3 linked regions of the Homo sapiens genome follow. The protein of the gene in region 3 interacts with the protein of the main gene of each other region in a biochemical or structural test. Each region holds a gene or a part of one and is shown on either strand. Other genes may lie near its edges. The genes, in order: KCNJ4, CRHR1 and MAGI3.

What was found.
Region 1: the proteins of MAGI3 (region 3) and KCNJ4 interact in a test that uses a peptide from one of them, tested with the Homo sapiens proteins (one large-scale study listed by IntAct).
Region 2: the proteins of MAGI3 (region 3) and CRHR1 form a complex in vitro, tested with the Homo sapiens proteins (2 studies listed by BioGRID and IntAct, with this or other methods).

Annotation. Positions count from the first base shown.
Region 1 is NC_000022.11:38,448,622-38,452,271, reverse strand, and holds part of KCNJ4 (inward rectifier potassium channel 4), read left to right. Parts: intron 1-3,650. UniProt on the Homo sapiens protein: Inward rectifier potassium channels are characterized by a greater tendency to allow potassium to flow into the cell rather than out of it.
Region 2 is NC_000017.11:45,818,817-45,822,466, forward strand, and holds part of CRHR1 (corticotropin-releasing factor receptor 1 isoform 2 precursor), read left to right. Parts: intron 1-2,538; coding exon 2,539-2,624; intron 2,625-3,650.
Region 3 is NC_000001.11:113,641,870-113,645,519, forward strand, and holds part of MAGI3 (membrane-associated guanylate kinase, WW and PDZ domain-containing protein 3), read left to right. Parts: intron 1-41; coding exon 42-647; intron 648-1,873; coding exon 1,874-1,905; intron 1,906-3,650.

The sequences.
Region 1 (3,650 bases), on a different chromosome or scaffold from region 3:
TTGGGCAGCCCCTTGCCTCATGTGGAGTCCACATCTGTATAGAGAACGGCTGGCCACTTAAGATCTTGGCGATTCTCCTGAAAGAAGGTGCCCTTAAGTTCTGCGGCTCTCCTGGGCCCAGAGGAGGGAGCCCTGGATTTCAAATCACCCTCTGTGACCTTGAGCAATTGGCTTCAATGCCTCATGCCTCCATCTCCCCACCTGTAAAATGGGGATGACAGAATCCTCAAAGGCAACAGCTATGAAAGCAGGAGACAGGAGTAGAGATAAGGCCTCTGACTCTGAAACCATAGACACTCAGGGGCCCGTGGATCCAGCATGCTGGGCAGGGGTTGGACAGGGTAGAGTGGGAGGGTGCCTGGATTCAGACAGAAGGTTTGGAGCTTAAATCACTGGTCTGATGCCTTCGTTTTACAAAAGTGGAAACTGAGGCCTGAGGGGGAAGTAGACCCATCAGGGTCACAGTGATGGTTTGTGGGCGGAGGAAGCAGAGCCAGGGCCATTGTTTTACAAAAGTGGAAACTGAGGCCTGAGGGGGAAGTGGACCCATGAGGGTCACAGTGATGGTTTGGGGGTGGAGGAAGCAGGGCCAGGGCCTGAATCCAGGGCTTCTGGCTCCCAGCTCTATCTGGAAGCAGACAGACAGATGTCCCTGTGTAACACTGTGGCAAGCCCAGACAGGACCCAGGAGCTTTGAGGGCCCAGCTCTGAATTCGGCCACCTCCTTTCTCCCTCCCTTCTCTCCAGATCCCCTCACCCCACTGTCCTTGGGCACTAATCCCCTCCCTCTATTGGTCTCTTTGAAGAACTCCTTTCAGTCTCATTTTAAAGCCAGTTTCAGGCAGTCCCAGGCAAGGACAGGTTGGATTTGGGGTTAACTGGAAGCTTATGCTCCATTCTAGAAAATTCCCAGAGCTGGAGGTGGAGCAAGATAGGGAGCAGCTGTGGTTGTTTTGTGAGATAGTGGGCTCCTCAATCCTAGAGGTATTCAAGCAGAGCCAGATGAGCACCTGCCAGGTGACTCTCGCCTTACGGGTGAGGCCGAATAACATCCCCACTTCCAAAATCCTAGGAGTCTTTGGTGTTTCCCAAAGAGGAGCTGGGAAGCAGTGCCCATCGCTTCCCCGCTTCCCAGCGAGGAAACACATTTGCTCGCCAGGCACTGGGCTAGGAGCTTTTGCAAATTCCCATTTAATTCTCCATGGCAATGTTGATTTGATGTCCCCGTGTTATAGATGGAAGGGCCATGGCTCAGAGAATCTATGTGATTTGTCCAGGGTCACACAGTAAGACAGCAGAGGAGCCTGGGTGTGAGTTCAGACTAGTCTGATTCTCGGGGGCTGTCTCTGGGGCTTCCCTGGGGAAAGAGTGGAAAACGTTCCTCCCTGGGGCTGGGGCTTGGCAGGAGATGGTCTAGACGCCCCCACAGCGTGACACCCCCTCAGGGATCCTCTGGCTCCTCTGGGGGCTCCATTCTGAAGACAGATACCACCATGCATCTTAGGGGAGAACTCATTTCATAGATGGGAAGACTGAGGCCCAGAGACAAGGAATGACCTGCCCGAAGGTGCCCAGAGAGTTAGATTAGGGCCAGGCTGCCTGTCTCCTGGCCCAGGGCTCTGTCCCCTGTGCCAGTGAGTGAGGAGGGGCCTTTGGGCTGACGGTGGTGGCATGAGGTGTGAGGTCGGGAATGCAGAGGGCTGAGAGAGGGCTGGCTCCAAGCTAGGGCTGCAGGAGGAAAGTTATCGGCGCAGGGAGAGGGGAGCAGAAGGGAAATGGCACATGTGCTACAGAGCCTGGTGAGGTCAGTGGGACCTGGCTGGCAGGAGAGGGTCTTGGAGACAACTTCCTTGGGTGGCTCTCTGTGTGACCTTAGGTCAGTCCCTCACCCTCTCCGAGTGATGTCCACCCATCCATGTGAACCTGGGCTGAAAGATCTATTTCCACCGAGTAGCTGTGGTTGGGCTGCTGTCGAAAAGCGCTCCTCCCAACGATGGGAGGACTGTGGGTCCTGGCAAGGGGCAGGCGGGAATCCTAGGGGTTGGCATAACCTTTAAGCCTCCTCTGCGGACTCAGCCCTCCTTGGGGTGTGGGGGATCGCCAGTCACAGCCCTTCTTCTCCTTTTCATCTTTATTTTTCTCCTGTTCCCTCTTCCCCTCGCTACGTGGGCTGATCGCTGCTCAAACTTTTAATTCAGATGGTAATTGAAATAATAATATGGGCTGAGGCCCCTCTGCTTGTGACGCTGCAGCTGGTGGAGCTCGGCTATGAATAGACCTTGAGTCACACACGCGCGCTCCTGCAGGCGCGCACACGGGCGCTCACGGGGTGGTGGGTGGGGTGCAGCATGGGGAGCAGGGGTGAGCTCACGCTCTGGCTTGCTCTGGTCTTGGCCCCCCACTCCCAAAGGTCTTGACCAATCCTGGCCCCGTGGCCCAACACGGGGTCCCTGTCGTGAACCTGGAAGACTTTGGACATAGATGATTCTCATTTACAGAAGGGGAAACTGAGGCTCAGCAAGGGGAAGTGGCTGGCTGGAAACAGGCTGGATTTGAATGGATGGGTTTTGCCTGATTCTAAGACCACTGTTCTCTGTTGGGACACACAGGGTGGGAAACCGGTGGGGAGGAGTGCTGGCGTGTGGCCCCTGCCCCTCCCTCTGCACCCGTTGCCCCACCTGCTCGCAGCCCCCTTTCAGCCTGCGCGTGCATGCTCAGGCACAGACACAGGCACACACGCATGCGCATGCGTGAGGGCTGCTCAGATGGCTGGTGCCGTTGCTTGGTGGCTGGGGTGAGAGCAGTGTTCTCAGGGTATTGCTGCAGGAGGGAAGCTGAGTGCCAGGCTCAGCGCTGGGCTTCATATTCATGATTTCACTTAATCCTCCACCACCCTGGGAGAACCATCACCCCCACTTCTCAGATGAGAATACTGAGGCTCAGAGAGAAGCAAGGATTGGTTCCAGGCTCCTGGGTGGAAACAGCCACAGATGCTTTGTCCTACTGTGCACCCAGTGCCAGCCCCTCCAGGACCCTCATTGGCCACCTGAAGGGAGGTGGGTACATGTCTGCCAGCCTAGGCCTCCCCTTTCCTTCCATGCAACAGCTCAGCCACTCCTCCCTGTGGCTGCTGGCCAGTCCCTGACCAGCCCTGGTGCCAACAGCTGGGACGTCTGGCCTTGGCAGGCAGGGGAGGGTGAGGTGCCCCAGAGAGACATTGGCAGGTCAAGAGGTCCTTAGGGGCTACCAGGAAAGGGGGTCCTTGGTGTTCCCGACCCCAGCAGGAGCTGTGGAGGGAGAAGTCAGCGTTGTAATGGTGACCTGTCAGCTGGGAGCTTTGGTCTAGGCCTGGGGGGCCCCCAGCAGGGCAGAGGGGAGCTGGGGCATGGGAGGTGCAGTTGGGCGGAGGAGCTCCCTGGGACTGGGATGGAGGAGAAGCCCCCACCAAGCCTGGCCCAGCAGCTCCTGTCTGCGGCTGCATTGGCCTTCTCTCCATTTCCTCTCCTGGGAGATGGAGAAACCGAGTCCGGAGACCACCAGGGTTTGCCCAGGGTCACTCAGCAATGGTGGCAGAGCCTCTCAACCCGGAGCTGCTCCTGACTCCTCTGTGTCCTGATGGCTCCCAGGGCTGCCGGCCCCTCCTCTCTCAC
Region 2 (3,650 bases), on a different chromosome or scaffold from region 3:
CTGCATCTGATCTTCAAAGGGATGGGAAGCATTTCCAAAAATATCTATTTTCCCGTGATTCTTTGGGAGGACTGCTCAGCTCAGCAATTAAAGACAAGGAGGTCGCATCCTCCCTGGCAACGGCTCCCTGCTTGTTGGGCCTGCTTTCTTTCGGATCACCTCCTTTCTCCCCATCAAAGCCTGCTCCCTCTGGGTGACCCAGCCTCTGATGGGACTCCTGACTCTCCCCCACATGTCAAGGGGGGCAAGGGTGTTGAGCAAAGGGGCTCCTCCCACAATATCCACCGGTACCCTTTGATGGGGACAAGGGACACGCTCTGAGTCTCACGTAAGGTTATATAAATACAGCTCCAAGACAATAATAATAAAAATAACAGCCAACATCACATCCCAGGTACAGTTCCAAGCACCTTGTGCATGTTAACTAAAAATATTCAACTCTTGATGTAGGAGCTGCTATTCAGATGCTCTCACTTACAGAGGAGGAAGCTGACAGGTTTCGGGATTTGCCCAAGGTCACACAGCTAGTGGAAGGTAGTGCCAGGATTTGATGCTAGGCTGTCTGGGTCCAGGGGCCACGCTCTTAGCACTACTCCATGCTGCCTCTTAACTCAAGAACCACCCCACCCCATCCCACCACCCCCGGGCCCCTTCCAGCCGGATCTCTGTCCCAAAGCCCCTATCCCTGGAGGTATTTCAGAGCAGCCTCTGGTCCCGGGACTTCCCAGCCATGGCAGAGACACTGGGTTCTCCTGGTTCCTCGTCTCACCCTCCCCTCAGACCTCCATGAAAACCCACTGGGTGAGCCTCAGCCCTCCGGTAACTCATCCCTCATTTGGCAATTGGAGAGAATCAGCAGCCTCTTCACCAACTCTGCCCAAGGGCCTGAGGCTCCCTGAGACTGCGGTCCACTGACATGGAAGAGCTTTAAAAATCCATTTAGCCGGATCTCCCACTGGCCAGCTGTAGCTGAGCAGCTCCTCAGCAGGGGGACCAGGGAGGGGAATGGAGGGGAGTAGTGCGAGAGAGGAGAGGCCACATCTACTTTTCAGCCCTGGAGGCCAGGACGGGCTCCCTATCATCACCTTCTTGTCCTGATGCTGCCAGCAGAGGCAGCTCCCAGGCTGGATGGTCCCTTGGGGATCAGCCAGTCCAGCCCCTCCTTTTATAAATGAGAAGGGGTCCCCAGAGGTCAGTCATGCAGCACGGCAGCAGCTCAGCTGGTCCCAGGGCCCCAGCCTCTAGATCCTCACAGGGTTCTGCCCCATGGGGCTCCAGACTCAAGGACTGGGACTCCAGCAGCTTTCCCAGCCCTGTTCCAGCCCCAAGGGCCACTGGGAGCCACAGGAAGGCCTACAGTGAGGGAGGCTCCAGGTGAGATACTCAGGGCTTCATTTCTCTGCCAGGCAGTTCTGCCTGAAGTCAGAGCCAGAATTAACTCAAGGAAGCATGTTTAGAGCTACTGATGCCAGAGCCGGGTACAGGGTGGGGTGGGGCAACCTCTGCCAGCAGAGAAGATGAGATGGAATTTAGAACTCATGCTGTCCCTTCCCAGCTAGGTTTTAGGACCCTGGAGCTCAAGCCTGGTAGGCATGAAGGAGGGTAAGGGGAACACGTTGGGCAGCTCTGCCCATCCCAGGGCCCTAAAGCCAGGCATCAATTCAGCTCACAGGGCCCCTCCCCATCTCCTTAGAAGGTGACAGGTTCTGGGCCACAGTCCAGGCCGGTGGCTGCACAAACCTCCATATGTCCCTGGGCCACTCTCCTGCCTTCCTCCTTGAGTGACATGGGCCAGGCTAGGAGCAGCTGTGACAGACCTGAGTGATGACATCTCCCCACACACGCCTGTCACCTGTCATTTTCTGTCCAAGAGACCTCCATCATGGATGTTCCCCCCACCCACAGACCACGACCTTCCAACACAGGCCCGCTATGGGGAAGTGCCACCATGGGACCTTCCCCAAGATCTGCCCCATGAACTCTGAGCCCCCATGTGCAGCACAGCCAGTGAGGACCTCCCACGGCAGCCTCTGTGAGATGGCTCTACCACAAGAAGCCCTGTCATGCCACCTGCCACGCGAGCTGTCACCGCATACCCTTCCACCGTGTCATGCCCAGCCTCGTGAAAATTGACTCATGAGGTCTCACCATTTTTTTGCTGTCTTGCAAGACCCCTGAAAAGGAGATTTCTCAGAAGAGCACCTACCTGTCATCTGCCACCACATAATGACTTGCAAAGGAACAGCCCAGGGAGCTGGTCAAGCCTGTCCACGGGCCAGTCCTGTGGGCATGATCATGCCAGCTTGAGTGGGCAGAGCCGGGGGAGCCACCAACCCCTGCTGGAGGCCAATGGGCAGAAAGAGGCAGGAAGATGGGGGTGGTAAGGAAGCCCCTCTCCCCAGCTTCACTACACAACCCCCAGCCAGCAGGTGCCTGTACTGGCCATCTACAGATCCATCTACGCATCCATCTGGGCCAGGATGGTCAGGCAGGGGCCGGGGCTGCCCCGCCATCACTGCCTCTCTCTTCCTTTTCCAGACAATGGCTACCGGGAGTGCCTGGCCAATGGCAGCTGGGCCGCCCGCGTGAATTACTCCGAGTGCCAGGAGATCCTCAATGAGGAGGTGAGGCTGAGCCGAACAAGGCTGCCCATATGGAGGGGAGTCCAGGGTCCCCAGCAGAGTTTTGTGCCTGCTACTTGGAGTCAGGGAGCCAGAGGCTAATGTCAAGGCCCTGCTCTAGTGAAGCTGACTGGGGAGCTGGAGCTGTCAACTTGGAAAAGGCCCATGAGCAGGCGCCCTCGAGGGCAGGCTGGACCAATGGGGCACTGGGCAGGCTCTGATGGTGATGAGATGGGTCCTTGTTCCTTCCTTCCTTCTCCCTGTGCTCATCGGGCAGCCGCTTGCACTGGGCATGGGACTGTCCTGGGGGTGCAAAGGGAGACCAGACTCGGTCACAGGAGTCCCACCCTTTTCCACAACACATGCCTGAGAGATACATCCAGTTCCAGCCACAGGGCTGTATGGAAACCAGGGACGGGATGGAGGTAGCAATGCAGTTTGAAAAAGCCCTTGGAAAGCCTTTTAAAATGTTAAATGTTTTTGAGCAGATATTGCTTACACAGAACTCAGAAGGTACAAATGGGAATACAATGTCCCCTCCCACCCCGTCCCCAGCCACTGGATTCCCTCCCAGAGGCAACCATTTTGCCAATTTCACAAGTGTCCTTCCAGAGACATTCTCCGCATACACGAGTAATTTTGTATACGTATTCTTTTTTGTTTTTACCTGAATGTTGCATGTTATACACACTGTCTACACCTTGCTTTTTTCATATAATCATCTATCTTAGAGATGGTTCCATATCAGTACATAAAGAGCATCTTCATTCTTTTTGCATTTGCATAATATCACAAAATGTACCATAACTTATTTAAACCAGTCTTTATTCTCAGTCTTTAGTTATTACAAATGCTGCTGCAATGAATAATCTTTGAAGGGTGATATTTGGCAGAGGCACAAATATATCTATCCTGGAGCTGCTACTGCCCTCGGTCTCTCCCACCCTGTCTCCTTTCCCACCCGACGCTTTCTCCCTTGGTGCTGAGGAAGACGGGGGTCAAAGGGCAGAAGGGGGGACACCCCAGGCT
Region 3 (3,650 bases):
TTGTTGATTTTAATATTTTTAACATGATTATGTTTTTCCAGGCGATGTTATTGTAGACATCAATGGCAACTGTGTCCTCGGTCACACTCATGCAGATGTTGTCCAGATGTTTCAATTGGTACCTGTCAATCAGTATGTAAACCTCACTTTATGTCGTGGTTATCCACTTCCTGATGACAGTGAAGATCCTGTTGTGGACATTGTTGCTGCTACCCCTGTCATCAATGGACAGTCATTAACCAAGGGAGAGACTTGCATGAATCCTCAGGATTTTAAGCCAGGAGCAATGGTTCTGGAGCAGAATGGAAAATCGGGACACACTTTGACTGGTGATGGTCTCAATGGACCATCAGATGCAAGTGAGCAGAGAGTATCCATGGCATCGTCAGGCAGCTCCCAGCCTGAACTAGTGACTATCCCTTTGATTAAGGGCCCTAAAGGGTTTGGGTTTGCAATTGCTGACAGCCCTACTGGACAGAAGGTGAAAATGATACTGGATAGTCAGTGGTGTCAAGGCCTTCAGAAAGGAGATATAATTAAGGAAATATACCATCAAAATGTGCAGAATTTAACACATCTCCAAGTGGTAGAGGTGCTAAAGCAGTTTCCAGTAGGTGCTGATGTACCATTGCTTATCTTAAGAGGAGGTAAGTAAAAGCACAACATAGAAAAAGTTTCAGTGTTCAAGCGTTTATATCTACTGATTGTCTTTCCTTACAGTTTAGAATGTGTTTTCCCAGCAGACTTAACTAGTAATTAGTGTGCATTTTCCTTAAGGTTCTGTCTGATTGTTTCCATAAGCAGTGTCTTTTTCAGCAGTTTTTAAAAAATTATTAGTGATTTCATTCATGTCCATTATGGATTTATTTCCCTCTGTATTCTTTTGAAAATCTGATTCATGGCTTTAATGATTAGAGAGAGTCACAGCATTGTGATACTTCAAATGAAATACATCCTCTTAATTTCATTTCTCTGTTGATGACAGTAATAGAAATTGACTCTTTCAACCAATGGTGTGTCATCTGGACCTCTGTAATGCACCAAAGATGTTTTGAAAGAGCTAGCATCTCTGTGGATAAGTAAAATGTTGGATGGTGTATTAATCTGTTCTGCAGAGGCAATCATGATAGCATGTGCTCATAAAGTTTTCATCTTAAGCTCTAGTATCTGACTGTAAATGTTAATTAAACCACACAGTGCTTATGTGAGAGAAATATAATTTTTATTTTCCAAGGTCATCAGCTGACATGAACTCCTCCCAGACATTTACAAATTCAGTTCCAAGGAATAATCACAAAGTTGAATTTTAATATGCTTTCTTAAATCCATACTTATAAGTGACTAGTATCTTAAAGAATAAAAGCCACTTACTCTTTTATCTCTCTGGATTTTACTTTTCACTATTGAGGCAAACGAGCACTTCAGCTTCTTTGGGAGTTGTTTCTTATTCTCGTTTCTTTGATTCACATGGGTTTCTTCTCTGAGTGATGGTGGAATGTGCTCCAAGTAAGGTAGAAATCTCTTTGTGAGTGCTTGAGAGTAATCCAGGGCTTCAACAAGTATAACAAAGACACCAAAGTTCAATGTCACACAGGTTTGATGTCAGTTTCCTGCCTTGCCACTTACTGGTTCTTTGGTATAGGAAAGAATCTTAGTTTACCTTCTCTGTAAGATGGTCATAACATTTGTGCCTTCAGATTGTTATAAAAATGAAATGAGATAATATATGTATAATGCCTGGTACATAGGAGGTTAGACACAGAATTTACTAGCGTACTAAAAGTTGAAGCTAGTTTTATCGTAAACATTAGCAGTATTTGTGATCTGGGAATGCATCCTCTGGTTTTAAACTTTGGTTCATTTTTTTTTTAAGGTCCTCCTTCACCAACCAAAACTGCCAAAATGGTGAGTATACACTGGTCCTCAAATCTTTTCCCCAACACACTGAGAGAGATGCCACATTCCCCTCTGTAAGAGGAGCTCACTGTGGTGATGATTATCGACTGGGAGAAGTTAGGAGGCATGCTGCCCTTGGCTTGTATTTATTAGAAACTAGGGAAGCGTTTGAAAAAGCCCCCTAGTGAGGAGATGTGCTCCACTGGTTAAGTATTGCAACTGGAGGATTACTAAAGGCCTATTGTACCAATAATCCTGTTCTCTAAGTTATAAAATGTGAACACATTAAAGAACCAACCTAGAGGTCTTTTTACTTTTGTGTTTCAGAGAAACAAGGTAGGAAGGACCTAAATGTTAAGACAGATGATAAACTATTACATCGTCTTGCCCCTGCCTGAAGAGAAGACGTACTAGTTCACATAATTTTGTGGGGACTATAAATATGCATGCACCTTTAGATAATCTTCTTACTTTTAAGACTAAATTAGGCTTATTTTTTTATTATTTATTTTTTATTTATTTATTTATTTTTTGAGACGGAGTCTTGCTCTGTCGCCCAGGCTGGAGTGCAGTGGCGCTATCTCGGCTCACTGCAACCTCCGCCTCCGGGGTTCAAGCGATTCTCCTGCCTCAGCCTCCCAAGTAGCTGGGACTACAGGTGCACGCCACCACACCCAGCTAATTTTTTTGTATTTTTAGTAGAGACAGGGTTTCACCATGTTGGCTAGGATGGTCTCAATCTCTTGACCTCATGATCTGCCCGCCTCGGCCTCCCAAAGTGCTGGGATTACAGGCATGATACACCACGTCCGGCTGACTAAACAAGACTTTCTAGAGTAATTGTGGCCTTCTATGCTAAATTTGCTTGTTGTCAAAGTGAAAGACCTGAAACAGTGTCTTCTTTGGCATTCTTCTAAATAATCACGTAGCCTGTTTAAGGACCTGTGCAGAGAATAAGAACTTTAAAAAGGAGTGCATCAAATGCTGCTGTTGTGGAAGAAACTCTACAAGGTGCACATTTGTAGCTATTTAAATATCCACAATGTTTTGGATATAAAGACAATTTTATTTAAAATTCTAATTTAGTTCTAGTTTGCTCCTTTGGAGTCTTTTATCTCAAAATCAAAAGATGGCCTTCCATAACCATAAACTATAGACAATTATATTAAATGAATTAGTTCTTTCTAGCCCACCAAGTAGGAATCCTCTGCAAATTTGCTGTTTTATAGATTAAAAAGAATCCCTCAGCTTCTGGCCTTTTTTTTTTTTTTTTTTTTGAGACAGAGTCTCACTCCATCACCCAGGCTGGAATGCAGTGGTGTGATTTTGGCTCACTGCAGCCTCTGCCGCCTAGGTTCAAGCAATTCTTGTGCCTTAGCCTCCCAGTAGCTGGAATTACAGGTGCACGCCACCACACGCAGCTAATTTTTATATTTTTGGTAGAGATGGAGTTTCACTACATTGGCTAGGCTGGTCTCAAATTCCTGACCTCAGGTGATCTGCCCACCTCGGCCTCCCAAAGTGCTGGGATTACAGGCATGAGCCACTGCGCCCGGCCAGCTTCTGCCCTTTTCATTGACTGCTTATACTACTTGGGTCCAGTGTGAACAGAAATTGTTTTTGTCCATTCAGTTCAAATTGCACTGTATTCTACATTTCTCTGGTTCCTCTAGTAATCATTTTTAACTCCTGTGCCACCATATTTATTTCATAATGGATGCCACTGCAGTCGCAGTGGCCCTAATGCTTTATAA